Regions from separate parts of the Homo sapiens genome. Here all the other regions are linked to region 1. Evidence: fine-mapped expression QTL. A gene starts in region 1. Each other region holds a variant in brackets. All regions are shown on one strand. Distances are from middle to middle. Region 1 holds the start of RPRM (reprimo, TP53 dependent G2 arrest mediator homolog). Region 2 has its middle 45 kb from the start of RPRM. Region 3 has its middle 180 kb from the start of RPRM. Region 4 has its middle 25 kb from the start of RPRM. Region 5 has its middle 160 kb from the start of ARL6IP6. Region 6 has its middle 61 kb from the start of RPRM.

Evidence for each region. PIP is the estimated chance that this variant, and not a neighbour inherited with it, causes the effect.
Region 2: its variant is the best candidate, but not a certain one, in a credible set for the expression of RPRM in whole blood (TOPMed, PIP 0.56).
Region 3: its variant is the best candidate, but not a certain one, in a credible set for the expression of RPRM in whole blood (INTERVAL, PIP 0.67).
Region 4: its variant is the best candidate, but not a certain one, in a credible set for the expression of RPRM in whole blood (TOPMed, PIP 0.63).
Region 5: its variant is the best candidate, but not a certain one, in a credible set for the expression of RPRM in adrenal gland (GTEx, PIP 0.85).
Region 6: its variant is the best candidate, but not a certain one, in a credible set for the expression of RPRM in whole blood (INTERVAL, PIP 0.83).

The regions. Positions count from the first base shown.
Region 1 is chr2:153,475,934-153,480,933 of GRCh38, forward strand. It overlaps RPRM (reprimo, TP53 dependent G2 arrest mediator homolog), which reads right to left and starts at 2,829. Exons shown (of 1, transcript NM_019845.3): 1 at 1,405-2,829. The coding sequence starts at 2,632. The coding sequence ends at 2,303. It also overlaps a transcript of GALNT13 not described here. RefSeq lists enhancers at 996-1,499, 1,500-2,003, 2,004-2,507 and a silencer at 2,864-3,063.
Region 2 is chr2:153,431,122-153,436,121 of GRCh38, forward strand. It overlaps a transcript of GALNT13 not described here. Among named protein-coding and RNA genes, the nearest start is that of RPRM, 45 kb to the right of the region's middle. The variant C/T (reference allele first, on the strand shown) is at 2,112.
Region 3 is chr2:153,295,676-153,300,675 of GRCh38, forward strand. It overlaps a transcript of GALNT13 not described here. Among named protein-coding and RNA genes, the nearest start is that of RPRM, 180 kb to the right of the region's middle. The variant G/T (reference allele first, on the strand shown) is at 2,059.
Region 4 is chr2:153,501,535-153,506,534 of GRCh38, forward strand. It overlaps a transcript of GALNT13 not described here. Among named protein-coding and RNA genes, the nearest start is that of RPRM, 25 kb to the left of the region's middle. The variant C/T (reference allele first, on the strand shown) is at 2,561.
Region 5 is chr2:152,877,689-152,882,688 of GRCh38, forward strand. It overlaps the pseudogene UBQLN4P2. Among named protein-coding and RNA genes, the nearest start is that of ARL6IP6, 160 kb to the left of the region's middle. The variant A/C (reference allele first, on the strand shown) is at 2,868.
Region 6 is chr2:153,415,578-153,420,577 of GRCh38, forward strand. It overlaps a transcript of GALNT13 not described here. Among named protein-coding and RNA genes, the nearest start is that of RPRM, 61 kb to the right of the region's middle. The variant T/C (reference allele first, on the strand shown) is at 2,057.

The sequences.
Region 1 (5,000 bases):
AAATAGAACATTGCCATTTCTTGTCCTGTCGGTTAGCAAAAGTAGATTGCTTTCCAAGACTCCTACTGACTACCTATTGACTATCTCTTGACCCTGCCCCCTGCCCAGATACCAAAACAACAAACAAGCAAACAAACCCTTACCTGTTTAAAAGACAGGAACAACAAGCAAAACTTCAAAATCCTCTTTTCTCAATCCTGATATCCATTAGAATTCAAAAAACCATCCTAGGTTGTGATTTCTAACAAGGTTTACTTGAGAGCGAAATGGACACTTAATAGTGGATATGACATTAAAGGCACTCAAAACTTTTGATCCCAATCTTTGAGTCGTTAACATTGTTTACACCAGTTGTGCTTCTTTCTGAGTAAATGGAACACTTTATTATTATTTGATTTTAGTTACTCTTATAGCTGCCATTGTGAAGTCTTTGAAATTTTAATTGCTATATAGCATCCTAGTGGATTCTTTATAGTCTTGAAAATATTTAGGATCCTGTCTCAGGCATAAAAATAAACTGCTCAAAACCTTTTGTCAAGTTTATGCTCGAAGCTATTGTATCCTTTGGGTTATTTTCACAGGCACGGTTTTTAGGCGTTTCTTTCTAACACTGTTGAATTTCTGAACCTTAAATGTGTCAACGGCCATCTGTAGTTCTACTCCAAATATCCTTCCCAGTTGGGGTTGTAATACTCATCTCCCACATTCAGGACCTCGGCTAACTCCTCTCAACCCTTTGCCTGGTCTGGGGCATACTAAATTACAAAGAACAGGCTGAATCTTTTAACGTGGTCTTTTTGCTAGAAAAAGTAATATCACAACGACAGTAATGCATCTCATGTTTTAGTAACAATGGTTTACCCTAGGGAGCATTAACGTCACTAACGTCACTGTGTACCTTAGCAGCTACTTTTCCTCGCATTTTATAATTCCCCTTCCCTCCGCCCCCCGGCCCCACCCGTGGGCAGCATCCCAAAGCCGCCTGGCTGACGTTGGTTAGGGTAGAGACGCCCTCCCTAAAGGCTGTCCAAGCCGTCTCTTCCTTTCATTAGCGGTGTAATCCTGTGTTCCCGCCGGAGCCTGGCACGGAAGTGTAATCTTCCCGCGGGGGCCCTTCTGTCGTCTCGCCTACCTGAGAGCTGAGACTAAATGAAATATAAAATATTCACGATAAGAGGAAACAAAGGATGCTGCCTCCAGGACGGCTACTGTGCCTGAGGCTGGGCTCCTTCTCAGTCATCCCAGGGCCTCTCCGTCTGGCCCCACCCTCGCCCCTCCAGGGGATCCACAAGTTGAATCGCAGCTCTCCAGGGTTAATTGCCCTGGCCGGGAGCCAGACTCCTCACCGCCGCCCCGTTCCCCCCTGCTGGGGAGCGCAGAATGACCACCAGGAGGCCAGGAACAAAACGCTTAAATGTTGCATTTATTAAGGAAATGTTAAATAAGAAAAAAACAAAAAGTCAAAACGGTGTCACGGATGTCAAGAGCACTTTTGTGGCGTAAACCGTGCAGTCACGAGCTACGAGTTCTATTCTGGGTCTTTGTCCCAGGGCCAGCAGGAACGCTAGACGCCTCCCAAAAGACCCAGTGGGAAATGCACTAAAAGAAACAACTCACCCCGTTCAAATTCGCAGGCTCCCCCTCCCCCCACCCCTTCTCCCACAATGACAAAACTGTAACTCCTCAGGCAGGCAAACAGGCCACTGGGGCAGAAAAAGACTTATCAAACATTTGTATTCAAGCAAACAAACACAAAACCTCTTAAAACGGCACGTTACAATCAAAGGTATTTATCGCCCCTCCCCTCCAGGGCAGGGGGGGAGCAGGAGAAGAGTGGGAGCGCACCCGGACACGGATTTGTGAGACCCCATGAGTCTGCTGCGTGGCTTTTAACAGGTCACTCTTCCGGTCACAAGGCGATCAGTGCCGCTGGGTCTCTCCCCTGCCCGCCCTCTCCACCTGCCCCCAGAGCTTGGCCCACCTGCGGGTGGAGAAGGGCCTTCGCACCGTCGGTCTCCCCGCATTCCAAGTAAGTAGCAGCTTCCAAAGTTCTGCGCCCTAATCGCCCTCTTCTTGCCACTTTCTGCTGAGTTCAGAGTCTGGGCGCTCTCCTCCGACTGCCAGGCATGAGGACTTTCAGAGGGCGAGGGAGAAACCGGTCGCTTCTTTCCGAAAGGCCGAAGTCGAGAGAAATAATTGACTCCGACAGGTTTGCTTCGCCCAGTCTCTGATAGTGAGGGGCACAGCCGGGCTAGCAAAGTGGGCAGGCGTGGGAGCGGTTGCCGCGGGGGCAGAGGGCGGGTCAGTAGGGCCCCACGACCACCGCCTCCACCTCCTTAGACGGCCTCCGGTCCTTCACGAGGAAGTTGATCATGCCCTCGGACTTGATGAGCAGATTGCAGCCGAGGAAGAAGATGCCGAAGACCACGGTGAGTGAGAGCACGCACATGACCGCGATCTGCACCACGCGCATTATGTACAGGCTACGCTCGTCCGGGCCTCCCTCCGCGAAGCCGTCGTCGGTCACCACGGACGCCTGGGTGCAGCAGCGCACGGCTCGCTCCAGCGCCTCGCTGCTGTTGGCCAGGAACAGGCCCGCCACGTCCGTCTGGTTGCCTAGGGCCGGATTCATCGCAGGAACGGGCGGGCGCCGCGAGCGGCGCGGGTCCGAGGGGTGGGAAGGCGGCGGCGCTGGAGGAACAGGTGCCGGGCTGAGCGCTCACTCGCAGACTAGCGCGTGCGAGGGCTCCTCGCTCTGCTTTCGAAAGTCCCTGGGCCGTGGGAGTTTCCCAGGAGCCTCTCCGACGCGCGCAGCAGCTAGGCTCTTCTAAAGCCGTCCGCTCCAGCCCTGGTGGTGCTCGTTCCCGGCGCTCGCTCGAGGGGGGGCTGTTGGAACTTGGCGGGGCTGGACCAGCCCGGCCGTGGGAGGTGCGGGCCGCGGCGGCTGCAGCGGCGGGGTGGCTGCGCTGAGCAAACAGCGGCCCCTTCCGGCCGCACCGCCGCGCTGCGCGCTGCTCTTGGGAGGTGGAGGAAGCAAAGGGGCGAACCTGGTCTTGCTTTTTATTGCTTGCTTCTTTTGCAAACTCCAAAGGCCAGGCAGAGGTCACTGTACTCTTCTAGCTTGATGGATGATTAAAGAGTTTGTCGGGGGAGGGTGCGGTCAGCTGAAAGTTTCAGAGGAACTGGGACACACGAGCTCTGCGTGTCCTTTGCCTGCTGCCCCCCTGACCTCTGGGCGAATGGAAAGTGGCGATGAATCGCAGGTGCCAGATGGTGCCGGCTGAGGCCACCCGCCCACTGCCTGTGCTTGACTCCGACTCGCCTGCGTTGGATTTCTAGTGGAGTGGAGGTGATCTGAGAATGTTTCTTACAAAGCAATGAATTTGGAAAGACAGAAAGGCATGGAAGAAGGAAGGAAGAAAGGAAGGAAGGAAAGAAAAAAGGAAGGGAGGGAGAAAGAAGAGCTCTACACCCAGCTTCCTTTACAAAAGCGATTGGGAGACAGAGCAAGGCAGGTTTTACCGTGAGGTTTGAGGCCAAGGAAAGAGGGTTAGAGGAAGGAGGAGTTCTTCTGTGGCCCTTGGGTGGAGGTAGTTGCCGGGAGCAGGGTCACCTCTCTGGTAAAGGAGGTGAACAGAGTGACCACTTGCTTGTAATTTTAATTGCAGATAAGTTTTTGGATGTGCTTCCAGCATTTTGTCCGTTGGCAGTAAATCAGTTGTTGAAGGGAATTGCTCATCAACATCCATCACCTAGAACGCTGGCCAAATACTGGGAGCCCTCCCCATTTTCCATAAGCTGATGTATTTCACCCTTAGTCATTTAAACTAAACACAGATGTTTTTATAGGCCTGATTGACGCTTCAGCCATTGTGATTTTGCTCTAGGTTCCAACGAAATTCTATAAACCTGTCAGATTAAGTTTCTTAACTCTGAAAGAATATTGCATGTTCCCGCTCCCCCTTTTCTGTTTTCTTTCCCCTCCCTCCTTTTCCCCATTACTCCCTGCCTTCCTCCCTCTTTCTTTCAGCTGTAACAGCTGGAAACCAGTAACTTGAGCTTCCAATAGAATACATTTACTTTCTATTAAATGTTCTCACCACAAAGAACTGATAAAAATTTGAGATAATGGGTACGCTAATTACTCTGATTTGATCATTCCACATGTATATGTGTATCAAAATATCACTTTGTACCTCATAAATATGTACAGTTGTCAATTAAAAATAAAATAAAACTGAAAAATAGTAGCTGTCTTGCCATTTTCAACTCTACTCTTAATTTCATTCTGTTTGCTTGGTAAATCCTCTTATTTCTGTTTCTTAAAACATCATTTATTCCATCTTCAGAGTGTTCCTTAAATGTTTTTGCACTGCTTCATGACTATCATAAAATAGAATGAAATGCCTTCTGGTTGAGTTTTCAATTTTTTGATATTTATGGTATATCAGCTGCAATAAGTTTGATTTTTTAAAATAGCTATTATTATTTTGAGGGGGATGTTTAACAGCTGAAAATTCAGGCTTGGGCTTCTACCACAATTCACTGGCTTATTGTTCTAGTTTCCCATAATTTAATTAGAATTGAAAAATACCTCACTCTCGGCAATTTCTTCTTTGAAGAAATTTATTAATAATTGATAAGTAAGAATTTACTTAAATCTCATCATACAATCAGTCTATCTTAGTTAATGTGGGTAGTCCTCAAGAATAATAAAACGTAATGTATACATGGAAAAAATTACAACAAATTTAAGGCAATATAAAGTCATCCTGAGATGAATGGTAGAGAAAAGTAATAGAAATTTAGAAAAATAAAAGGTCAGAGAACAGAGGCCCACCTCCAGGGATCAAGTTGTACAGAACTGTGTGTTCAGTAGAAGTTAGGTGTAAGCAAATGGAGAGCCCCTTCTTTATGTGACAAAAACCAAGAGTTAGTTTATAGTACATTTGTAAGATCCAATATGGAAGGATGCTAAAAGTGTTAGTTGAATCATTATC
Region 2 (5,000 bases), 45 kb before region 1:
CCTAGGCAACAGAGAGAGACTCTGTCAAAAAAAAAAAAAAACAAAAAAAGTTGACATAATTAGGTATACTGTATTTTACTAGGACAATTTTTACTGATGTTATAGTTGCCTAGTTTAAGTTAATAACCTAATTTTGCCCTTTCTTTTTTGTCTTAGGCCTTGAGCATCTTTCCAGATTTTTTCTGCTGAGCTCACCATTATTTTGGCTTTGAAACTCAGTGTGATAGAGGTGATCGTGAGGCATGCCATGTGTAGATGTCTTTCAGCTAATAAATGACCATCCTAAAATTGAGCTTGTCAATAGTGGCTTTTCAGATGAGAGCAGGGACAGAACCTCACCTAGGTATACACTTGGCTTGATTTAAATTACAATTGCACAAAAACAGCAAAGAAGTTAGCAGTAGTTTTGCCCCTTGGTTCTCGAGACCATGTTCATCTGATTACAAAAGACACAGCAAGTGCTGCTCAACCTCCTGCTCCCTTTCTAGGCTTCTAGCCCCTCATTTTGCCTCACAGGAGAGCTCTACTGGACAGACAATTAGCATGGGATTGGAGGCCATTCTCCAGCTTTCTGCATCTGTCAAATGATGGAGAGGGTTTGCCTTTTTCAGATCTTTGTGAAAGGGATCACCCATTTCTTTTAAACATCTAATATATTTCACACAGAATGGCTATAAAAAGTAATCAGTTACATGTATAACACCATTGCTTTCTCAACAATCAGTGAAGACAGTTGAATTTACAGCCAGAAGACAATCACATTATATTGGACCACATATTCATACTTCATTTATTTCTCCCTCAAGTATTGCAGCTGTAATAGCTCCTAGGAAGCTTTAAAAAATATGCAAGAACATTTTAAACTTCCAGGAACACTCAGACTTCAAACTACTTTTTCTTCTTGTATAACATCTTTAAATAATTAATTTTTTTGTTTCTTTTTTAGTGTTCTGGTTTGGGAAATATTAAGATAACTGGAAATGGGAAAAAAAAGGAGAAGGAATTTGTGATTTTTCAATTTCCATGAAATCAACAACCTTGCTTCCTAGAGTGGATTCTTACAGAGGTCAATAGTACACTTGTGTGTTGTTGAAAATTGTTAACACTCCTATCTAAAAGCCACAGGATAGTATTCCAAAGACTGTGAACAACAACTCCAGGGCTCCCAGGGATCCTCAGTTGCTGTTACCACCAGTGGATTTTTTTCAAAAGCATTTTTAAGAAATGGTCATAAGCAGGAATCAAATGGTTTGGAATGAATCTGTTTTGTTGGAAGAAGGGGTTTAATTAACTTTCGAGCTGCACAAATTAATCTGGACTTTAGTGAGGGCCTGAAAATTGATTAAAATGTGAGCACCTTTTCAGAAAGTATTTGACCAGGAAATAAATTCATTTCTTCAAGGTCAGTGACCCTACAAGTTGACAAGTGATTCAGATTAATACACACTTGGGTTTCAAGTTTCACCTATTGCTTGGCAGAAGCTTCTGCCCCATCCCCCACCCCCAGTGCTGCTTGTCATCCACCTGATCTAGTTGTCACCTTTTCTTCTGGACTGTTTTTCTGACAGAAACCCTTTGCAGAGTTTTTGGCTGGGGGGTGGGGAGGTGGTTGGGGGGCATTGCAATCAGTGCAACGTTTCATTTTAGTTGTTTTATTGAAGATTTAATCAACATTATGATTTAAAAATAAGGCAGAAAATAACTTCACCTAGATTAAACTTACCTCTTAAAGATAATAAATGTCCATCAAACAGAATGATTTGTAAAATAGTTTCATAAAATCCTACTTGATTTAATGACCTACCTAATTTTTGCAGTGTCTTTTATTTTTTCTTCTTGGGGGCTAAACACACATAACACGCACTCATGCACGTGCACACACACACAGGCATATACATAGACACTCCAAGCATTTGGAGACTCTCCTCTATATTATCTAGTAATACAAGCTCAGAGGTCAAGCCTTACTGTAAGAGAATATGGAAATAATTAGAGAAATTTTGTGTGAGAGTAAATGAAGAGACTATTTATTCTAAGAAGAGAGGAAATTGTAAAAATAAAAAGTCTCATCATTGATTTCAAAGGAGAACTTGAAACAGGATTCAATCTTG[C/T]TACCCTCATTTAAAAAATAAGAAATTGTGGTCTTAGAAGGTTCTGATCTACCACATTCTTTCATAGTTCACATGAAGTGGCAATGGGATGATTTAAGGTGTTTTTATTTCCCCTTGATTTAATGTCAAGTATAATTTAGTGGACAATTATATGTAACACCTTTGATAATTAATTTTCCACTCCAAATTAGGCTTTGGCAATCCTCTTATCCTGGTGTCATTATTCTTATAGAATACTGTACACGTTAACTTTGTTTTCTTTTCTCATTCCCTATTAATGCTTGTTTTTTCAAATAAATATTAACTATTCCACATAACTTCTAAGTAAAGTTTCAGACTTTAATAATACATTTTTTTAATTACAGAGTCAGCATATTCTTTGCAAAAAAAATCCTTAGCAAATACCTAGAGAAGGTAGAGTTTAGCGGAGCAGGAATTTTCTTCATCTTTTAAATTAAAAAATTGAACCAACTCTCCATGTACTTCAACAACTTTTTACCCTCAAAAGAGAAGAGTTTTAACATCATTAAATCCGAACATATATTTGAAAAAATTAGAAATAATGGCCTTATCAGATAGTTACTTATACTTTTTTTTAATTTTATTATTATTATACTTTAAGTTTTAGGGTACATGTGCACCACGTACAGGTTTGTTACATATGTATACATGTGCCATGTTGGTGTGCTGCACCCATTAACTCGTCGTTTAGCATTAGGTATATCTCCTAATGCTATCCCTCCCTGCTCCCCCCACCCCACAACAGTCCCCGGTGTGTGATGTTCCCCTTGTTGTGTTCATGTGTTCTCATTGTTCAATTCCCACCTATGAGTGAGAACATGCGGTGTTTGGTTTTTTGTCCTGGCAATAGTTTGCTGAGAATGATGGTTTCCAGCTTCATCCATGTCCCTACAAAGGACATAAACTCATCATTTTTTATGGCTGCATAGTATTCCATGGTGTATATGTGCCACATTTTCTTAATCCAGTCTATCATTGTTGGACATTTGGGTTGGTTCCAAGTCTTTGCTATTGTGAATAGTGCTGCAATAAACATACATGTGCATGTGTCTTTATAGCAGCATGATTTATAATCCTTTGGGTATATACCCAGTAATGGGATGGCTGGGTCAAATGGTCTTTCTAGTTGTAGATCCCTGAGGAATCGCCACACCGACTTCCACAATGGTTGAACTAGTTTACAGTCCCACCAACCATGTGAAAGTGTTCCTGTTTCTCCACATCCTCTCCAGCACCTGTTGTTTCCTGACTTTTTAATGATCACCATTCTAACTGGTGTGAGATGGTATCTCATTGTGGTTTTGATTTGCATTTCTCTGATGGCCAGTGATGATGAGTTTTTTCATGTGTTTTTTGGCTGCATAAATGTCTTCTTTTGAGAAGTGTCTGTTCGTATACTTTGCCCACTTTTTGATGGGGTTGTTTGGTTTTTTTCTTGTAAATTTGTTTGAGTTCATTGTAGATTCTGGATATTAGCCCTTTGTCAGATAAGTAGGTTGCAAAAATTGTCTCCCATTTTGTAGGTTGCCTGTTCACTCTGATGGTAGTTTCTTTTGCTGTGCAGAAGCTCTTTAGTTTAATTAGATCCCATTTGTCAATTTTGTCTTTTGTTGCCATTGCTTTTGGTGTTTTAGACATGAAGTCCTTGCCCATGCCTATGTCCTGAATGGTATTGCCTAGATTTTCTTCTAGGGTTTTTATGGTTTTAGGTCTAACCTGTAAGTCTTTAATCCATCTTGAATTAATTTTTGTATACTGTGTAAGGAAGGGATCCAGTTTCAGCTTTCTACATATGGCTAGCCAGTTTTCTCAGCACCATTTATTAAATAGGGGATCCTTTCCCCATTTCTTGTTTTTGTCAGGTTTGTCAAAGATCTTATAGTTGTAGATATGCGGCATTATTTCTGAGGGCTCTGTTCTGTTACATTGGTCTGTATCTGCTTTGGTACCAGTACCATGCTGTTTTGGTTACTGTAGCCTTGTAATATAGTTTGAAGTCAGGTAGCGTGATGCCTCCAGCTTTGTTCTTTTGGCTTAGGATTGACTTGGCGATGCAGGCTCTTTTTTGGTTCCATATGAACTTTAAAGTAGTTTTTTTCCAATTCTGTGAAGAAAGTCATTGGTAGCTTGATGGGGATGGCATTGAATCTATAAATTACCTTGGGCAGTATGGCCATTTTCACAATATTGATTCTTCCTACCCATGAGCATGGAATGTTCTTCCATTTGTTTGTATCCTCTTTTATTTCCTTGAGCAGTGGTTTGTAGTTCTCCTTGAAGAGGTCCTTCACGTCCCTTGTAAGTTGGATTCCTAGGTATTTTATTCTCTTTGAAGCAATTGTGAATGGGATTTCACTCATGATTTGGCTCTCTGTTTGTCTGTTATTGGTGTATAAGAATGCTTGTGATTTTTGCACATTGATTTTGTATCCTGAGACTGCTGAAGTTGCTTATCAGCTTAAGGAGATTTTGGGCTGAGATGATGGGGTTTTCTAGATACACAGTCATGTCGTCTGCAAACAGGGACAATTTGACTTCCTCTTTTCCTAATTGAATACCCTTTATTTCCTTCTCCTGCCTGATTGCCCTGGCCAGAACTTCCAACACTATGTTGAATAGGAGTGGTGAGAGAGGGCATCCCTGTCTTGTGCCAGTTTTCAAAGGGAATGCTTCCAGTTTTTGCCCATTCAGTATGATATTGGCTGTGGGTTTGTCATTGATAGCTCTTATTATTTTGAGATACGTGCCATCAATACCTAATTTGTTGAGAGTTTTTAGCATGAAGTGCTGTTGAATTTTGTCAAAGGCCTTTTCTGCATCTATTGAGATAATCATGTGGTTTTTGTGTTTGGTTCTGTTTATATGCTG
Region 3 (5,000 bases), 180 kb before region 1:
CAAAGTGTGATCTATGGACCAGTATCTCACTAGCACCAGCATCACCTGGGAGTTTCTCTGTGAGAAATGCAGAATCTTGAGAAAAATTCCAGACATACTGGATCAGGATCTGCATCATAAGAAGATTCTCAGGGATTTACAGGCACATTGAAGGATCAGAAATAGTGGTATAAACCTCAGCGTTGAAGGCTAATAAAATGTCTCCTAAGATGGAATGAGAAACAATTGGGACTTGGTACATCTGACTTTTGGTTTTCCCTGAATCAAGTCTGCTGAATTCTCATTTCTCTGTTTGGCATAGCAAGGGTCAAGGGCTACACATTAGAGCGCCCACTCAGTCTTTGACTGTGTGTCAACAAGCTTATGGAAAATGCTGCTCCGCTCTCCAGACTGCAGGAGTGAGGCCCATCAGATAGGAAAACTCTAGCTATCTTGTTATCTCTGCATTCAGTCTGCTACACAAAACTGAACCCTGTGATAATCCTGATCAGCATTAAGAACTGAAACTTGAGGAAAGAGAATTTGAGTAAGTGGAAAATTCTAGAAAGGGGACCCCAGGAGGGAATGGAAGTTATCAACCAACACAGGTGCCTGGACCTCCCATTCCTGGAGAATTTCTGTTTCCAAAACTGTAATAGTGAATAGAAGGCTACCTGTTGAGCTTAAGATACCGAGAAAATACTTCTGATAATTGGCACCTACCTTGCAAAATTAACAACTTCCTTATCCCTTTTGTGAATTTCATATTTGTTTCAGAAAATCCAAGTGTTTCAAATATTCATAAATTCCAGGGTTTAATGTCGTTTTAGTAATTAGAAGTTCATAATGGAGAGAGAAAACAGCAGATTTCTTATACTGTTTCCAGTATGTGATTCATACATGACAGGTCACCTGTTAAAAGCTAAGTGAAATTGCCATTATACTCAAGTGGCAGGATATATTCCTGACTGACGCAGAATGAAAGGGTGTGATTTAAAGGGCCAGATAGAAACTGTGTTTCTAGTAGTTACTTGAAGAGACAGCATATTTTCACTTTAGTCTAAAATATTGTGATAGAAAAGAGAAATAAATGTACATGGAAATAAAACTTGTAAAAATACTGAGCAAAAATGGATTCTCAATTTTTTTTTATCAAGGAAAAGCATTGATTTACTCATGTTAAATGTTTTTCTTTAAAAAAAATTCCCTGCTTATGTAGCTCCCTAAATCACAGGAGAACCAAGCAGTCATGATGTTTCCCATAGGATCACATGATTTATATTTAATTTCAAATACTTGGTGCTTTGAAATCTTTTAAAATTAATCTTAAAGCACACATATAAAAATAGAATGGAAGAGAGTATATTCCATCTCCTTTGAGGAAAAAGAATTCCTAACAAAGCAATCAGACTCTAGGATGCCATCAGCACACCTTTGAAAAGTGAAAGCAGACAGTATTAAACTTTTAAAAGCTTACTTTGAAGGAATGTGGAATTTGTTAATATCATTTTAGTGAGGAAGAAAAGAAGAGACTGTGTTACATTATTTATTCCAGGATCTTTGAAGGCAGCTGCTTTTTTTCTTTTCTCAGCTGGTTTGTTTTAGTGTTAATGAGCATTAAACTCATATATCAAAGACAGAATAACAAACCTTTAAATGTCAACCCAAAAGAGATCTTTATTTTTCTATTTGCAACTGTGAAGCAGTGAGGATAATTTAAGACACGAAAATGTGAAAAGTTACCTGAACATTTATAAAGAGAAAACTGGAAGAGGCATAAAATTGCAGAGTAGTTTTGAGAGAAAGAATTTTAACTGTGTATTCAGCACACAACAGGGAGGGAAAAGAATACTCCCTTAAGGGATTGACAAGGTAGAGTTAGAGACATGCAGTAAAAATTTAGAAATGTAGCCCATTATATTTGTCTCTGAAATGATAAGTGTGAACATTTAGGCACTAACTTTATTGTAATGTACAAGGATGAGCTGACTGATTTGGAAAGCAAAATTTCAGGTTTACAAATGATACTAAATGAGAAAAGAAAGTAAATAATGAGCAGTCATTCAGGCTCCACTAAAG[G/T]ACTAAATTGTTGCAGTGCAGTTGCTGAGGCTAACAATAGTGGATGTGCTGAGTTTAGGGCAGAGTTAAATATTCCTTTTGTAGATAGCAAGAGCAGGTCTCTCTGAATGAAGGTGTCACAATGTGCTGACTGAAAAGAGGTTTGAATTAGAAAAATCCTTCAAACTGGGTGATTCAACAAATCCAATGGAGAGAGAAAACATTATGATTCAAGAATAGAATACACACCTGGGCATAAAGGAATTCTTAGGAGTTCTTGCAGCTAAACTAGGCTGGTTCTGAGCATGTAATTTAGGAGAAAGTTGGAATGTACTCATACAAATGAGCAGGTTATCTCAGAGAATTAAAGGTGCGCCTTCTTTCTCCCAGGACCGAAATTTTGTTACTGCTGCTTCTGTTGTTATTCTGGTTCTTCTTTACCTATCACTACTATTATTTCTAAATTTGATTACTTTTTTACTTCCTTGATGCTTAGGTGGCCTGTGACTTTAACGGTGGAACATGAGTTGAAAGTGTGCAAATTAGGGTGTAACTGTGCAGAGAAGCCATGCAGATCACACACTCAAAGACAGATGTACATATCTACGGACTATCAGGTCACCTTCGTGACCGGACTGAAGATCACATGACACCTCCTGCTCAAACCATCTGTCATTGGGACTGATATTCCACTATTAAAGATTCAGTTCCTGAAGACATTTTTAGGTCTTACAGTTACCCAAGTGCAGCAAATACTATAAGAGTGGTGATCTCCTATGTCAGAGTGAACTCAATGTTAGCAGGAGATTAATGAATAATTGTTATATTTGCCTTCTTTGGTTGCTAGTACAGCTTCTCACATTTACAAACCCCTGTTCTGTTAGGCACTCTGAATTCCTTACCCTTGATAACAAGAAAGAATCCAATAGAAAATTCACTTTGAGCTGTTAGTGATTCTTTTTATGGTTTCTGCTATCCAGAATAATGTATCTGCAAAGAAGAGAATAGAGGACAGAAAGATGGGGTAATGCTTAACCAAACCCAAGGAATAACTTATGAAAACCTTTCAAGCAGTTTAGCACTTGCAAGAGAGAGATAATTTGGAATAGTTGGGAGCTCCCCTGATATTCTTCAAATAATTCTGTCTCTGTATTCATGAGTATGTTACTGGAAGGTAAGATCAATACTTTATGAAAATTACAGTCACATTTTCATAAAGGAATAGATATTTTTTCTTACAATTCAATGATTTTCTAGGTTGTCCATTTTACTCTCAACCCTCAAAAGCAAGCTGATTTTGGAGCACAAACGTAAGACATCTTTGAAGACAAATGTATTCCCCACTCCATACCAAAAAATATAATGCAATCCAAATCCAAATAATAGAATTTTGAATAAGGTTTCTTTTGTATTTTATGTGACAGAATTTTTTCCTTTAGACTAGGTAAAGGAGGATATGTCATAGTACAAAGAATATTGATGACAGAAAATTGTAGGAAGATATAAGAACGAAGAAAAATTTTGTTGAGAAATTATTTGCAACGTTGTTTCAGAGCACAGTCATCTTTTATTTTGTTTGCTTTTAAGAATTCTGAACTAGGATGCTGCCAGGAAACAACACACTCAAACTAGGTACTTGAGGGGAATTGAATGAAGAAATCACTTATAAAAGAATGGGTGGGGCTTATAGGGAAATTCAAAAGGGATATTGCAGTACTAAAGGGCTAGCAATAATAGGAACTGTTAGTCAACCCAGACCTGAAGGGGCAAGGAAGAAACCAGAAAGAGAATCTTCACAGCCAAGGCTATCTGACAGCCCTATAGCCTTTTTCGAAGATGCAGCAGAGAGCTGGAAAAATAAAATCCTTAGCCAGTCTCTCTCTCTTCCCATCCAGTGATTTCCTTTTCCTCTTTCTCTTTGGAAAACCCAATGGGAAGCCAAAAGTCAAGGGAGCTTGTGGACACAATCAATACAGATCAGCCCTTTGGAGCAGAGCTTGGTGGGAAAAGGCAGGGAGCAGACCTTGAGGGCTGAATGGAGGATCTCCAACACAGTTGCTCGTTGGCATTGAATCAAATTTTCATTCAACCACTTTCAATTTTTATACCTGAATTGTTCATTTTTCCATATTTGTAGCATTTCAGCCATCTGCCCATTGGTAGTCTTTTGTTCTCATTCTGTCCTTGACAATTTCACAAGATTTGCATTGCCTTATCACCCACTAACATCATCCCGTGGTGCCGAGTACAGCCACAGTTGCCACCGGTAGGTCTCAAATTGAGGCAATATTCTGACAGCTATTCCTGGATTCCACAGCTGTTCTAGAGCTCAGAAGGGCCACATTCCACAAGCTGTTAGGAAACAGCTAATGTGTTCTCAAATTACTGTTACTGAGATTTTATATCAAGAAGGAAAAGTGGGTTGGTTACTAAGGAACAGGTGAAGAGAAGAAACAATACTTCAAATTGTGCTTTAGTTTGCGCTCCCCTAGTTAGGTGCAATAAGAATTAACATGGGTAGGTTCCCCACTTTCTTCTCTCTAGAATCCTGTGATAGTCGAATTTTTCTCACTCTCTCAGCTCCTTTAGAGGGAGTGTTTTTAATTGATATGAGAGATGTTGGGTCAAGCTACAGTATACGGTAAAGGAATTGCAGAAGGGTGAAAAAGAAAACAATACTTATGTGAGGGCTGGATGTACAGGGAAAGCTGGGATAATTGTGACAAGACTGTCTGAAGCATCTGGAGTTTAATGGAAATGGACAGGAAAGCAAAGGGGATTGCTGAGGACTATGTATTTGGAGCCTTATCATTTTTTATGTAAGCAAATATTTTGAGTTTTGGTTAAAATTCTTATTTGCTGACTACATTTCCTCAAACCAATGTCATTACTTTGAATCAAGACTACATAGATAACAATTTGTAAAAGCTACTCTTTTGGAGGTTGTGGGACATAATTCTAGA
Region 4 (5,000 bases), 26 kb after region 1:
TTGGCCAGGCTGGTCTCAAACTCCTGACCTTAGGTGATCCACCTGTCTCGACCACCCAACATGCTGGGATTACAGGCATGAGCCTCCGCACCCGGCCACCTCCTTTGTTTTTCCCAAGGAGTCCCTGGACATCAGAAGTTATCTTAGGGCTTCTCATATGTGCATTAAGAGAGCCAAGATAAAATGGAGAAAAATAATTCAGTCGACTGAGAAGAAAAAAACTTTTTTTAAGAAAAACAAGATCCACAAAGAGAAAAGACATAAAGGCTTTTGAAATATAACTACAGCTTGGCTATCCGCTTTTAATTAAGCTGGCTTTTAACCATAGCACTCCTTTTAAAATAAGTCCTTTTAATTCTCTTATTACCCAACCTTAGCCACGCCAAATGGCCAATACTTCTGGCTTTTGAACTCACGGAGGGGCAGAGAATACAGTAATTTTTACCATTCCTACAACCAGTTTGCACAGAGAGAGACAAAGCAGAAGTCTGACTAGTAAGAAAAGTTAAAAAAAATTATTTATTTTTTGTGAGGCATTTTATTTATTTATTTAAATTTATTTTTATATTAATAGGTTTTTGGGGGAACAGGTGGTGTTTGGTTACATGAATAAATTCTTTAGTGGTGATTTCTTAATTTTTAGTGTACCCATCACCCAAGCAGTGTACACTGTACTCAATGTGTAGTCTTTTATCCCTCACCCAACTCCCACCCCTTCCCCCAAGCTCCAAAGTCCATTGTATCATTCTTAAGCCTTTGCATCCTCATTACTTAGCTCCCACTTATGACTGAGAACATGCAATGTTTGGTTTTCCATTCACAAGTTACTTCACTTAGAATAACAATTTCAAATTCCATCCAGCTAGCTGCCAATGCCATTGTTTTGTTCCTTTTTATGGCTGAGTAATAATATTCCATGATATATATACCACATTTTCTTTATCCACTCATTGATTGATGGGCATTTGAGCTGGTTCCATATTTTTGCAATTGCAAATTGTGCTGCTATAAACTTGCGTGTGCAAGTCTCTTTTGTGTATAATGACTTCTTTTTCTCTGGGTAGATACCTAGTAGTAGGATTGTTGGATCAAATGTTAGATCTACTTTTAGTTCATTAAGGAATCTCCACACTGTTTTCCATAGTTGTACTAGGTTACATTCCCACCAACAATGTAAAAGTGTTCTTTATTCACTGCATCCACACCAACATCTACAATTTTTTGATTTTTTGATCATGGCTATTCTTGCAGGAGTAAGGTTGGTATCACATTGTGGTTTTCATTTGCATTTCCCTAATAATTAGTGATGTTGAGCATTTTTTCATGTTTTTTGGCCATTTGTATGTCTTCTTTTGAGAATTGTCTATTCATGTCCTTAGCCCACTGATGTGATTTTTTTAAATTTCTTGCTGATTTGTTTGAATTCTTTGTAGATCCTGAATATTAATCCTTTGTCAGATGTGTAGATTGTGAAGATTTTCCTCCACTCTGTGGGTTGTCTGTTAACTCTGCTGATTATTTCTTTTGCTGTGAAGCTTTTTAGTTTAATTAACTCTCATCTATTTATCTTTGTTTTCGTTGCATTTGCTTTGGGGTTCTTGGTCATGAAGTCTTTGCCTAACCCAATGTCTAAAATGATCTTTTCAATGTCATCTTCTAGAATCCTTATGGTTTCAGTTCTTATATTGAAGTATTTGACCCATCTTGAGTTGATTTTTGTATAATGTAAGACGATGAGGATCCAGTTTCATTCTCCTGCAGTGGATTGCCAATTATCCTAGCACCATTTGTTGAATAGGGTGCCCTTTCCCCACTTAATGTTTTTGTTTGCTTTGTCAAAGATCAGTTGGCTTCATTTCTGGGTTCTCTATTCTGTTCCATTTGGTCTATGTGCCTATTTTTTTTTTAAATAATTAATTTATTTGAGACAACGACTTGCTCCGTTGCCAAGGTTGGAGTGCAGTGGCAAAATCTCAGCTCACTGCAACCTCTGCCTCCTGGGTTCAAGCTATTCTTGTGCCTCCACCTCCTGAGTAGCTGGGATTACAGGTGTGCACCACCATACCCGGCTAATTTTTGTATTTTTAGTAGAGACAAGGTTTCACCCCGTTGGCCAGGCTGGTATCAAACTCCTGGCCTCAAATGATCCACCCACCTCGGCCTCCCAAAGTGCTAGGATTACAGGTGTGAGCCACTGCACCCAGCCTATGTGCCTATTTTTATACAAGTACCATGCTGTTTTGGCAACTATGGCCTTATAGTATAGTTTGAAGTTGGGTAATGTGATGCCTCCAGATTTGTTCTTTTTGCTTGGTCTTGCTTTAGCTCTGCAGGCTTTTTTGGTTGCATATGAATTCTAGGATTTTTTTTTCTAGTTACATGAGGAATAATGGTGGTATATTGATGGGAATTGAGTTGAATTTGTAGATTGCTTTTGGCAGTATGGTCATTTTCAGAATATTGATTCTACCCATCCACAAGCATGGGATGTGTTTCCATTTGTTTGTTTGTGTTGTTTGTGATTTCTTTCAGCAGTGTTTTGTAGTTTTCTTCTTAGAAA[C/T]CTTTCACCTCCTTGGTTAGGTATATTCCTAAGTATTTTATTTTTTGCTATTGTAAAAGGGGGTTGAGTTCTTGATTTGATTCTCAGCTTGGTTGCTGTTGGTGTATAGCAGAGCTACTGATTTCTGTGCATTAATTTTGTATCCTGAAACTTTGCTGAATTCATCTACCAGTTCTAGAAGCTTTTTGGATGAGTCTTTAGAGCTTTCTAGGTATACAATCATATAATCAGCAAACAGCAACAGTTTGACTTTCTCTTTACCAATTTGGATGCTCTTGATTTCTTTCTCTTGTCTGATGGCTTTGCCTAGGACCTCCAGTACTATCTTGAATAGAAGCGGTGAAAGTGGGCATTTTTGTCTTGTTCCAGTTCTCAAAGGGAATGTTTTCAACTTTTCCCCATTCAGTATAATGATGGTTGTGGGTTTGTCATAGATGGGTTTTATTACCTTAAGGTATGTCCCTTCTATGCCGATTTTGCTGAGGGTTTTAATCATAAACGGATGCTGGATTTTGTCAAATGTTATTTCTGTGTCTATTGAGATGATCATATGATTTTTGTTTTTAATTCTGTTTATGTGGTGTGTCACATTTATTGATTTGCAGATGTTAAACCATTCCAGCATCCCTGGTATGAAACCCACTTGATAATGATGGATTCTTTTTGATATACTGTTGGATTTGGCTAGCTCGTATTTTGTTGAGGATTTTTGCATCTATGTTCATTAGGGATATTGGTCTGTAGTTTTCTTTTCTTGTTATGTCCTTCCCTGGTTTTGGTATTAGGGTAATACCGGCTTCATAGAATGGTTTAGGAAGGATTCCCTCTTTCTCTCTCCTGTCGAATAGTGTCAGTAGGATTGGTACCAATTCTTCCTTGAATGTCTGATAGAATTCAGCAGTAAATTAATCTGGTCCTGGACTTTTTTATTGGCAATTTTTTAGTTCCCATTTCAATCTGGCTGCTGGTTATTGGCCTGTTCAGAGTTCTATATCTTCCTGGTATAATCTAGGAGGGTTGTATATTTCCAGGAATCTGTCCATCTCATTTAGGTTTTCTAGTTTATGTCCATAAAGATGTTTATAGTAGCCTTGAATAATATTTTGTATTTCTGTGGTATCAGTATATCCCATTTCATTTCTAATTGAGCTTATTTGGATCTTCTCTCTTCTTTTCTTGTTTAATCTCACTAATGGTCTATCATTTTATTTATCTTTTCAAACAACCAGCTTTTTGTTACATTTATCTTTTGTATTGTTCTTGTTGTTTCAGTTTCATTTAATTCTCTGCTCTGATCTTTGTCATTACTTTTCTTCTGTTGGGTTTGGGTTTGGAATGTCCTTGTTTCTCTAGTTTTGTGAGATGTGACCCCAGTTTGCTCTTTCAAACTTTCTGATGTAGGCATTTAATGCTATGAATTTTCCTCTTAGCACCACTATTGCTGAGGTTTTGATGGGTTGTGTCACTATTATTGCTCAGTTCAAATAATTTTTAAAAATTCGTTTCATTGTTGACCCAATGATCATTCAGGAGCAGGTTACTTAATTTCTATATATATATATGCATGGTTTTGAGGGTTTTGTTAGGAGTTAATTTCCAATTTTATTCCATTGTGGTCTGAGAGAGTACTTGATATCATTTTGATTTTCTTAAATTTACTGAGACTTGTTTTGTGCCTTATCATGCGGTCTATCTTGGAGAATGTTCCGTGTGTTAATGCATAGAATGTATATTCTGCAGCTGTTGGTAGAATGTTCTGTAAATATCTGTTAAGTCCATTTGTTCTAGGATATAGTTTAAGTCCATTGTCTCACAGTTTACTTTCAGTCTTGATGACCTGTCAGTGGAGTATTGAAGTCTCCCACTATTATTGTGTTGGCATTGATCTCATTTCTTATGTCTTGTAATAATTGTTTTATAAATTTTGGAGCTCCAGTTTTAGGTGCGTATATATTTAGGATTGTGATATTTTCCTGTAGACTAGAACTTTTATCATTATATAATGTCCTTCTTTGTCTTTTTTTATTCCTGCTGCTTTACAGTTTGTTTGATATATGAATAGCTACTCCTGCTTGCTTTTGGTGTCCATTTGTATGGAATATCTTTTTCCACACCTTTACCTTAGGTTTACGTGAGTCTTTATGTGTTAACTGAGTCTCCTGAAGACAGCAGAAACTTGGTTTGTGAGTTATTATCCAGTCTGCCATTCTGTATCTTTTAAGTGGAGCACTTAGGCCATTTACATTCAATGTTAGTATTGAGATGTGAGGTACTATTCTATTTGTCATGCTATTTATTGCCTGAATACCTTTTTTTCATTGTATTATTGTTTTATACGTCCTGTGAGATTTACTGTTTAAGTAGGGTCTATTTTGCTGTGTTTCCAGGATTTGTTTCAATATTTAGAGCTCTTTGAGCAGTTCTTGTAGTGCTGGCTTAG
Region 5 (5,000 bases), 600 kb before region 1:
GTATAGGGACCTAGCTCATCCTCCCAACTGAGAATTGAGAGCCCCTCCCTAACCTGTGGAATCCCTCACCCCATATCTCCCAGGTTCCTGGGTCTGGTGGGGAGGGCACTGGAGGATTGGGGGCCAGCCAGATGCACTCGACAGTGTCAAACTTCTTTGCAATTAATGCAGTTAGTCTGTGGTCAGGGATGTTCAATAGCCCGGGAATACAGGCCCTCCTCTAGCAGATCTTTGAGAACTCCCAGATGATGCAGAATGTGATCTCAGCTCCCTGCATGGATAGCATGATGCAGATGCTTACCCAAAACCCTAACTTTGATGCTTAGATGCCACTTTTTTGGGGAATCCCTAAGTGCAGGAGCAGCTCTGCCTGCAGCTCTCAGTCTTCTTGTAACAGATGCAGAATGTGGAGTCACTCTCACTTTTTGTCAATTCTTGCAGATGCTGTTGTAGATACAGCAGGGACTGGAGACTTAGTGGACTGAGGCTTCTGGCTGGTACCCAGCCTTGATTTCTTTGGGATGTTTCAGACTCCAGCACCCTTGGCAGACAGCAGCTTCAGGTCTGTGCCCAAGTCTCCCAGCTCTTTCCCAGCCATGCCAGGCACAACTTCCCTAACAGGTCTTCTGATGCCCAGCAGTAGTTCATGAAGTAGATGACCCAGCTTTTGGCTGGATGTGGAAACTCACTGGTGCAGACACTAGAAGTGAAATTTCAGCAGCAACTGCAACTGGAGCAGCTCAACAACATGAGCTCAATGGTGGGGCCAACCTGTAGGCCCTGATTGCCAAAGGAGAAGACAGCAACTCAGCTATTGAGAGACTCCTGAGCTCCCTGCTCTCTTATTCCCTTCGCCTGTGCCTCCTGCCTCTCCCTCACTTGATGCTAGCATTCGGTTCCTCTGTCACATCTTATCCTCTGCAGTTTTCTGTCCCTTCTCTCTTCTCTCTCGTCCTCTCCAAACAGCTGAAGTGACTTTAGAGGCATGAGCCCCAACCCTGTAGGTCTGAGCATTTTGGTTTTACTGTGTGCCTCTAACAGAATCTTCTCTCCTAGTCCTCCCTGAGCAGAGCTATTTAAAAATTTTTCACAATTTTGATTGGTCCTGCTTCCTTGTCCCACACCACCTTTTACAATCTTCAAATCTCTCAGTGGCAGGCACAATCAAAGAAGGAACCAACTATCTAGCTTTCTGAAACAGGGTCTTCCATCTGTACCACTAGGTAGGGTTTTGTTCATCTCATGTTTACTTTTGGTAACTCTCTTCCTCTGTCCGTACCTCCTCTCACTGCCCACCCACTCCTCAGCCTAATTAGTGGTAGAATTCACACTCTGAAGGAAGGGTAAGTGAAACAGGCTCCTCAGCCCCTATTCTGGTCACTTCATCCAGTACTCTTTCATGGGCTCTGTTAGGACTCCCAGGGCAAAGAGGAAGATACCTGTTTCCCTTTCTGAAGGAGGAGATAAGACACAGCTCTCTGGACAGGAATTGAGAAGCTCTGGACCAGCCCAATGGAGATTGATGCAGAAGAAGAGAGAATGAGATTTTTCTGGAGGAAGCAAATGGGGAAAGACAGCCTGAGTATAAGGCTGGGAAGTTGGAAGTGACAGGGAGTGAAAGCATAATAGCTCTCTCAGGCAGCTGAAACCAGGCCTGCGTCTGGTAGAGGAGACTTGGAGATGCTGATGGAACTGGAAGAAAGGGGCTCAGTGAAGCTAAGTGTATGGCCCACAAGTGGTCATATTGGCTCCACTTCCTCAAAGACACATGTTTATGCACATGTGGGTACATGTGCATACACGTGTGTACACACACACACATACACACACAATTCCGTGAACCCAGGACCTGCCTGTGTTTCCACATCTTTAAAATGGGAAAACAGCAGAATATACTTTAAGGTTGTGAGGGTTGAGTGAATGTATATGAAGTGCTTAGAGGGCCATGGGAACAGTAACCATTATTATTGCCTTGCATAACAAGGACATTGTCCCTCCCTGAAGGGGAGAATAATGCTTAATTTTCATTCTTATTTTCTTTTTGGAAGGGTAGAAAAGAGAACGGGAGTTGAAAGTGTTATTCCAGATAAAAAATGAAATACTGCCACTCTTCTATAGCTGAGAATACTATATTAAATACTTGAAATTTGCCAAGAGAGTAGATCTTAAATGTTCTTACCACAAAAAAGGAAGACAATTATGTAAGTTGAGGTGATGAATATGTTAATTACCTTGATAGTGGTAATCACTTTATAATAAATATGTACAACAAAACATCACATTGAACACCATAAATATATACAATTTTTATTTATGAATCCTACCACGATAAAGCTGGTAAAAAAGAAGACAACAGCAACAAACAGCCACTGTCATTCTTTCAGACATTGGGCCCCTTCAGTGCTTAGGAGAAGATGATTGTAAAAATCTAGACTTCTTCTCAAGACAGATTAAATATGGATTTGTGCTAAACCCTCACTTCTTCAGGGATTTTCTGAATATCATGCACACAGAAAAATACTGCTGTGCCTTGTGAAGTTATGGGCTCATATGAGAACAATTATTTACAAAGTTGATGTGGAATCATTTTTAATGTTGTATATGATCAGAGAAGATGCTGGCGGGTTGCTTTTAATATGTGATTTTTCAGATTTATAATAAAGGTTTCTTTTTTCTGAATTTTCACTATTCCTCATTTTACACTGCATGAAGAAATACACATAACTCAGTTCTAATCCTTTAACTCTCAGAGAAAAAATTTCCATGTCAGTTTTGGAAGTTTCCAAGAAATGGTGTTTCTTCTGAGAGGCTAAGAGCACAGCTTGGGGCAATTTAATACACAAATGAACAGATAACGGAAGGGAGTC[A/C]TGACAATGCCATAGTTCTGTAAGTAGCAAATAACTTTCCTACAATTAGAAGGTGCATGATTTATGGTGACAGTCACTGAGAAAATAAACAGGGAGACTGAAAAACCCTGGGTCCCACAGGGGAGGATGAGTGTGGGAGCAATGGAGGGTAAAAATCCCCAAAGAGCTGGATAATCCCTGTGTTAGGACATTATGTGTTGCTGTTTAATACCTGAGGCTGGGCAATTTATAAAGAAAAGAAGTTTATTCAGCTTACGGTTGTGCAGGTTGTACAAACATGGCACCAGCATTGGCTTGGCTTCTGGTGAGGCCTCAGGAAACTTTTAGTCATGGTGGAAGGAAAGGGGAGCAGGCACATCACAAGATAGAGGCAGCACATGTGGGGAAGGTGCCACTGTCTTTTAAACAATCAGATCTCATGTGAACTCATTACCACTCATTACTGGGGGGAGGGCACCTAGCTATTCATGAGGAGTTTGTCCCCATGACCCAACACCTCCCACTAGGCCCAACCTCCAACACTGGGCATCACATTTCAACGTGAGATTTGGAGGGGACAAACATCCAAACAATATCAAGCTCCAAGCTCTAGCATGCTAGCCTAGAGAAATAACAATCCCTAGAAGGGATTGTCATTTAAACAAGGTTAAATTTGTACAAATATGGTAACGCTATTTTAATCTCCTTGCATTAATGGAAAGCTTTTTTTCCTCTGATAATATTTCTTTTCCACCTTTTTCTAATGGGAGAAGATTGGAAAGTAGAGACCCATGGAGAGTTATCTCCTGACATCATAAGAGTTAATCTTGGAAGATTGTCTGTTTGTCAGGAGATAACTCTCCATGGGTCTCTTGCATTTCTGTGTATCTTGTGAGTAGAGGCACTGGTTGCCTTTGTTTCAGATTTTTTGTTCAAGGATGTTTGTATAGCAAACAGCCTTGAAAGATAGCAATAAAGACAGTATCTCCCTGCAAGGAAAAGAGCAGATATGCTTACAGTTTGGGAAGGTAGAGATGGATTTTTACTTCAGAGCAAAGGCAGGCATTTTACTGCACTGATGATTTATTGCACATTATAAAATATTTGGCTTCCTGAAGCTCAGGGTCCCTCTCCTATAATTCAACTCACTGCATGTGCAGGTGTTCCCTGGCCCCTTTCACATCCCCCTGGGGAAGCTGGGTCAACCAAACTGACACAAGAAAATAAATGATAACCCTCTGGCTACTGTTATCACTGTGACTAATAAAGTCCATTGTCTCTGACCTAGGAGGCTATGTCTTCTGCCAGTATCCATGAAACTGTGCTAGGCCAATTTCCTGTTTGCAAATAGGGTAAAATTTCAGACCCTTCAAGATTCTTCTTTTTCTCACAAAAGTTACATTATGTTTTTCGTTAACTGCCTGATACACCTCTAAAATATGTCTTTTCCTACACACGAGGGGAGTTGATAAAGTCTGTGGAAGAATGGAATTAAGAGCTGCAAATAAAAGTTGTGAACTTTATGTCTCAACATAAGCTCCATCAAGGTCAACACACTTCTGTAAGTGATGATCCCAGCCATTTAGTCCATTTTTTTTCATTTAGTCCATCTATAAAGAACTGAGGGTCCTGAGAATTTAACCATGTCACTGCAGTCTTTTTACATTATTAACTGAAGAAAAATGGATACCCCTTTAAGATTAGGAAACAAAAACCAATCAGAAGGAGCCAAATCAGGACTGTAAGATGAGTGCCTAATGATTTGCTATCAAAACTTTTGCAATATTGGCTATGTTTGATAAGAGAAATGAGCAGAAGCATTGTCATGGTGGAGGACTCTCTGATAAAGTTTTCCTGGGTGTTTTTCCGCTAAAGCGATGGCTATCTCAAACCACTCTCCTAATAGCCAAATATTATCATCCTTTCGTCCTTTAGAGAGTCCACAAGCAAAACATCTTGAGATCTCAAAACATGGTTGCCGTGAAGTTTCCTCTTGATCAATTTGCTTTTGCTTTGATTGGACCACTTCCATTTTTTGGTACCCATTGCTTTGATTGTGCTTTGTCTTCAGGATTGTATTGGCAAAGCCATGCTTTATCTTCTGTCACAATACTTTGAAGAAATTCTTTAGGATCTTGATCCCACTTATTTAAA
Region 6 (5,000 bases), 60 kb before region 1:
TATAAAATTAAAACTGAATTTGCAAATTTTTGAACAACACACAATGATATGAAACAATGTTCACCATATGAAATTGAATTACAAAAGCAAGAAGTGAAATAATATAGAGTGTAAGATCTCAGTTTTGCTAAAATGGACTTTAAAATTTACTGTAAACTAAATACACAAAAATAGAAACCTTTCTGTGCTGATAACTGTTTCTGCTGTGAGAATAGGGAAAACTTTCTCTATTTTTCTTATGTTTCTCTGTCTATTGTCAATCTAAGCTAGTTTTAAAATGAACAGAAGTTATTTCTATAATCAGAAAAGAATTAAGTAAATGTTGTTTACAAGATGAAGTGAAAAGAAAAAAGTTCTGCCATAGCAGCAGACACAACCCATTTAAAAGTGTTTAATCATTCTAGGTAATTGTTTAAAGAAAGTTGCCTATAAATAAACAAGCCTACCACTAAATCTACTGAAATTAGGCCCTGTGTTAGAGTAAGCATATGAATGTTGTTGGTAATTACAGTGGCACAAAAGCAGTCCTCTGGTTTTGTGGTTTATGATTCATAATCATTTATTTTTTTATTCAATATTAAGAAATACTCTGAAAGTTACTATTGTCTTAAGAAAAAGAAAATGTACTTGTGTAGTCTTTGAAAAAGGCAATGTCCAAAGCCATGTGACTGCTTCTGTTTTATGAGAGAAACCCACAGTGTCTCATAGGTCTCTTCCAGACACACTGGAATGGTGCCAATGTAAGAATATTAACAAAGAACAAGCACTGAGCCAAATAATTTAATTATCATTTGTTGACTTCGTCCATCTAAACTACATGAATCTTTATCCCAATGACACAAAGGCATCATTTCACTAAAGCTGATGAATAACTGCTTACATATTTTCCCACTGAATACTTAAATTTTGTCTTGTTCATTTGCATGGTTTTTATAGTTTTGGTTTGTTCTTGCTGTTTTGTATGTTAAAGGCATTCAACTTTTGTCTATCAAAGTTGTGGCAAATATTTTCCTAGACTGCTGATTACCATTCTGTTTATGGTATTTTTTGTAAAATACAGAAGTTAGTTTTTTAGAGGGTTATATCTATTGGTGTTTTTCTTTGTGAATTCTGCTGATTGTATTAGTTGATTCAACAAATATTTATTACATACTATGTGCCAGATACTCCTCTATGTGATATGATACAACAGTGATCCAAAACACCGAATACTCTTGCCCTCATGGAGCTTGCACTCTTACAGAAGGAGACAGACAATTAACAATTAAAATACATCCAACTTTTGTAGCACCTGAATCCTGAATCAGTTGTGGGCTGTCTTTAAGAAAAAGAATACAGGACCTTAGAAAGGGACCATGGAAGTGAAGGGCTTCTGAGCATATCGCATGGGAATGAGTGATATGGAGACAAATAAAGTGGAGGAGAAAGATAGGAAGTGCTAGGTCAGAAGTAGGGATCACAAATTTTTCAGAGAAGCCTCACTGAGAATGTCAAATTTGAACAAAGACCAAGAGGAGGGACAGAAGCACACAAAGAGGATATCTGGGGAAAAGCATGGTAGGAGAAGAAAAGAGACAGTGCTAAATCCCTACAGGGAGAGAATGCCAATAATGTTCCAGGAATGAAAAGGAGGTGGGTAGGGCTGAAACAGAGAAAGCCAGAGAAAAATAATAGAAGATGAGTCATAGAGGTACCAAATGAAATTATGGGAGACGGGGAGCAGATGATGTAGGGCCTTGCAGGCCCAGTCAATTTTCTTGGTTTTCTCTCTCTCAGAGTGAGAGGAGGTCACTAGAGGTGAAATGATTTAACTTATGCTTTCACTTAGATTGATAGGTTAAGAATAAACAGTAGGGAGAAAGAATGCAAATAGAGAGATGGATAAGGAGGATATTGCCATAATCCAGGCGAGAGATCATGGTGGCTTGGATGAGTCTGCCTGGGGAATGTGAGGAAATATAATTTGTTTTTGAATATGTCTTGAAGATGGAACTATCAGGATTTTCTGGTAAAATGGATGTAGATTGTAAAAAAGGAGAGTCTATGGGTGTTGTTC[T/C]AAGTAAATATGGAACTTTAAGTTTATTGAAATGAGAAATTCTTTTAGAGAATAAGCTTTTCGGATACAAGACAAATGAGAAGTTCCACTTGGAGTATATTAAATTTGAGATGTCCATTGGATATACGAAGTAAGATTGTCACACATGCAGTTGGAGCTCAGTAGAAAAGTCCAGGATGAATATATACCTTTAAACATCATCAGCATATACTTGGAACTTAAAAGCCATAATATCAGATATGAGTCATATAAATCACTGTAACAGTTAACACGAGGAATAAGCATAGAAATGGGAAGAAACAATCAGAAGATTGAGTCCTTGAAGGATGCCAATGTTTAGGTTAGAAAGATGTGGGAGAACCAGCAAGAGAGAATGTGGTAGGCAGCAAAATGGCCTTCCAAAGATGCTCACATCCCAGCCTTTCAAAACCTGTTAATATATTTTGGAGAGATTGTCCTGGAGTATCCAGGTGGACCCAATGTAATCAGAATACTGCTCATAAGAGGGAGGCAGGAGGATCAGAACCAAAGACAGAGATGTGATGACAGAAGCAGAGGTCAGTGAGGTAATATGATTGCTAGAAGGGAGGCACAAGCCAAGGAATTCAAGTAGCCTCTAGAAGCTGCAAAAGACAAGGAAACAAATTCCCCCCTAGCACCTCCAGAAGGTTTGCCACCGTGATATTAGCTCAGTGAAACTCCTTTTGCAGTTTTGACCTCCAGAACTGTAAGATAAATTTGTGTTGCTTTAAACCACTAAGTTTGTTGTAATTTGCCAAGAGAGGGATAGGAAGTAAATGCAGAGACTGAGAAAGGAGTAGTTAGTGAAGTAAACAGATAGATAAGAGAGTGTCATGTCACAGGGGCCAAATGAGGAAGTGTTTCAAGAAGGAAGTAGAATAATGGTCATTTGATAAACTATGTCAAATGCTGCTTATAGGTCAAGTAAGATAAAGCCTGAGAAATGAACATTGTTTTTAGCAACATGGAGGTCACGGATGACCTTGACAGGAGAAGATTTGGTAGATGGACTATAGAGAAAGCCAAATCAGAATTGGCTTCGAGAGAGTGGAGGGTAGCCGGGCATGGTGGTGCATGCCTGTAGTCCCAGCTACTCAGGGGGCTGAGGTGGGAGGATGGCTTGACCCCGGGAGGCAGAGGTTACAGTGTGCCAAGATCACACCACTGCACTTCAGCCTGGGCGATAGAGCCAGACCTTGTCTGAAAAGGTAAATAAATAAATAAGGTAAAATAAGGGAGAGTGGAAGGAAGGAACTGGAGAAAGAATTGCTGTGGAGTAGTGACTGCTATGTGCTTCCTGTTTTTCCCGTTTTTGAATGAGAGTCTCTTATCTCCATACCATAGATTAAAAAGAAACAACTATTAATTCATACAATGACTTGGATGGTGTATTAGTCCATTCTTACATTGCTATGAAGAAATACCCGAGACTGGGTAATTTTTGAAGGAAAGAGGTTTAATTGACTCACAGTTCCTCAGGGCTGGGGAGGCCTCAGGAAACTTACAATCATGGTGGAAGAGAAAGCAAACATATCCTTCTTCACATGGTGGCAGCAACAAGTGCCGAGCAAAAGGGGCTTATAAAACCATTAGATCTTGTGAGAACTCAATCAGTATCATGAGAACAGATGAGGGAAACTGTCCATGATTCAATTATCTCCACCTGGTCTGTCCCATGACACGTGGGGATTATGGGAACTTCAAAATGAGATTTGGGTGAGGACACAGCCAGGCCATATCAGATGTTCTCAAAGGATTTATACTGACTGAAAAAGGCCAGTCTCAAAAATCATATATCCTCCGTGATTCCACTTATTTAACATTCAAAAAATGGCAAAATGATAGAGACAAACAAGAGGTGAATGTTTTTTAGGGATTAGGGAGGGAAGTAGACAAGGAAAGGGTGTGAACAATGAAAGGAGTCCTTGTGATGGAACTGTTTTGTATTGACTATTGTTATAGTTACACAAATTTACATGTGATAAAGCTTCATGGACCTAAATACATGCACACACACATACACACACTACATGAATGCATGTAAAACTAGTGTAAATGGAATTAAGGTCAACAGTTTATATCATTGTCAATTTCTGGTTGTAATATTTACTTTAGTTATGCTATCACTGGGGGAAACTAAGTGAAAATTAGTTTCACGTGAATATACAATTATCTCAAAAAGTTAAAAAGAATGGTAGAAATACACCTAAAGTAAATTGACTAAATTTGCAAGTTAAATGGCAAGACTTCTCAAAGTGGATTTTAAAAAAGTAGTCCATCTATATATAGTTTACAACAGACCTACCTAAAACATAAAGACACAAAATTATGAATGTGAAGAAATGGAAAATTATATTTGAGGTAAATATAAGCAAAGAAAGATGATGTTACTTCTTATAATAATGTTTAAGAAATATATTTTGAAGCCAAAGCATTATTGGGAAAAAAGGTTACAGAAAAATAATAAAAGGAGCAATTCACCAGTCTGCATATACATTTAGTACATATAAGGACTGTAAAGAACAGGTATACAGGACATTATGAACGTTTTTAATGCCACTGGACCTTATGCTTAAAAATGGTTAAGATGGTAATTTTATGTTATATGTATTTTTACCACAATAAAAAGAGAAATTGTAAGGTTGATAGATTAGAAATCTGTACTCAAGAATTAAAGCATTTTCATTTTTTAAACATGTATGACACTATTAAGAAATAACATATTTTGGCATAAAATGAGTCATACAGATCATGCTTCTGCTGATAATTCAAAAAAATTTAAAAGGAAAAAATATAGCAAATATGATCTCCATGTATATGGAAATTTTATTTTATTTTATTTACTTCAAGCCTTTAATTTGAGACATGATGGAAAAATCTTGTAGGCACACTTGGAAAAGTCATGATTACCGCTGAGTGAAAA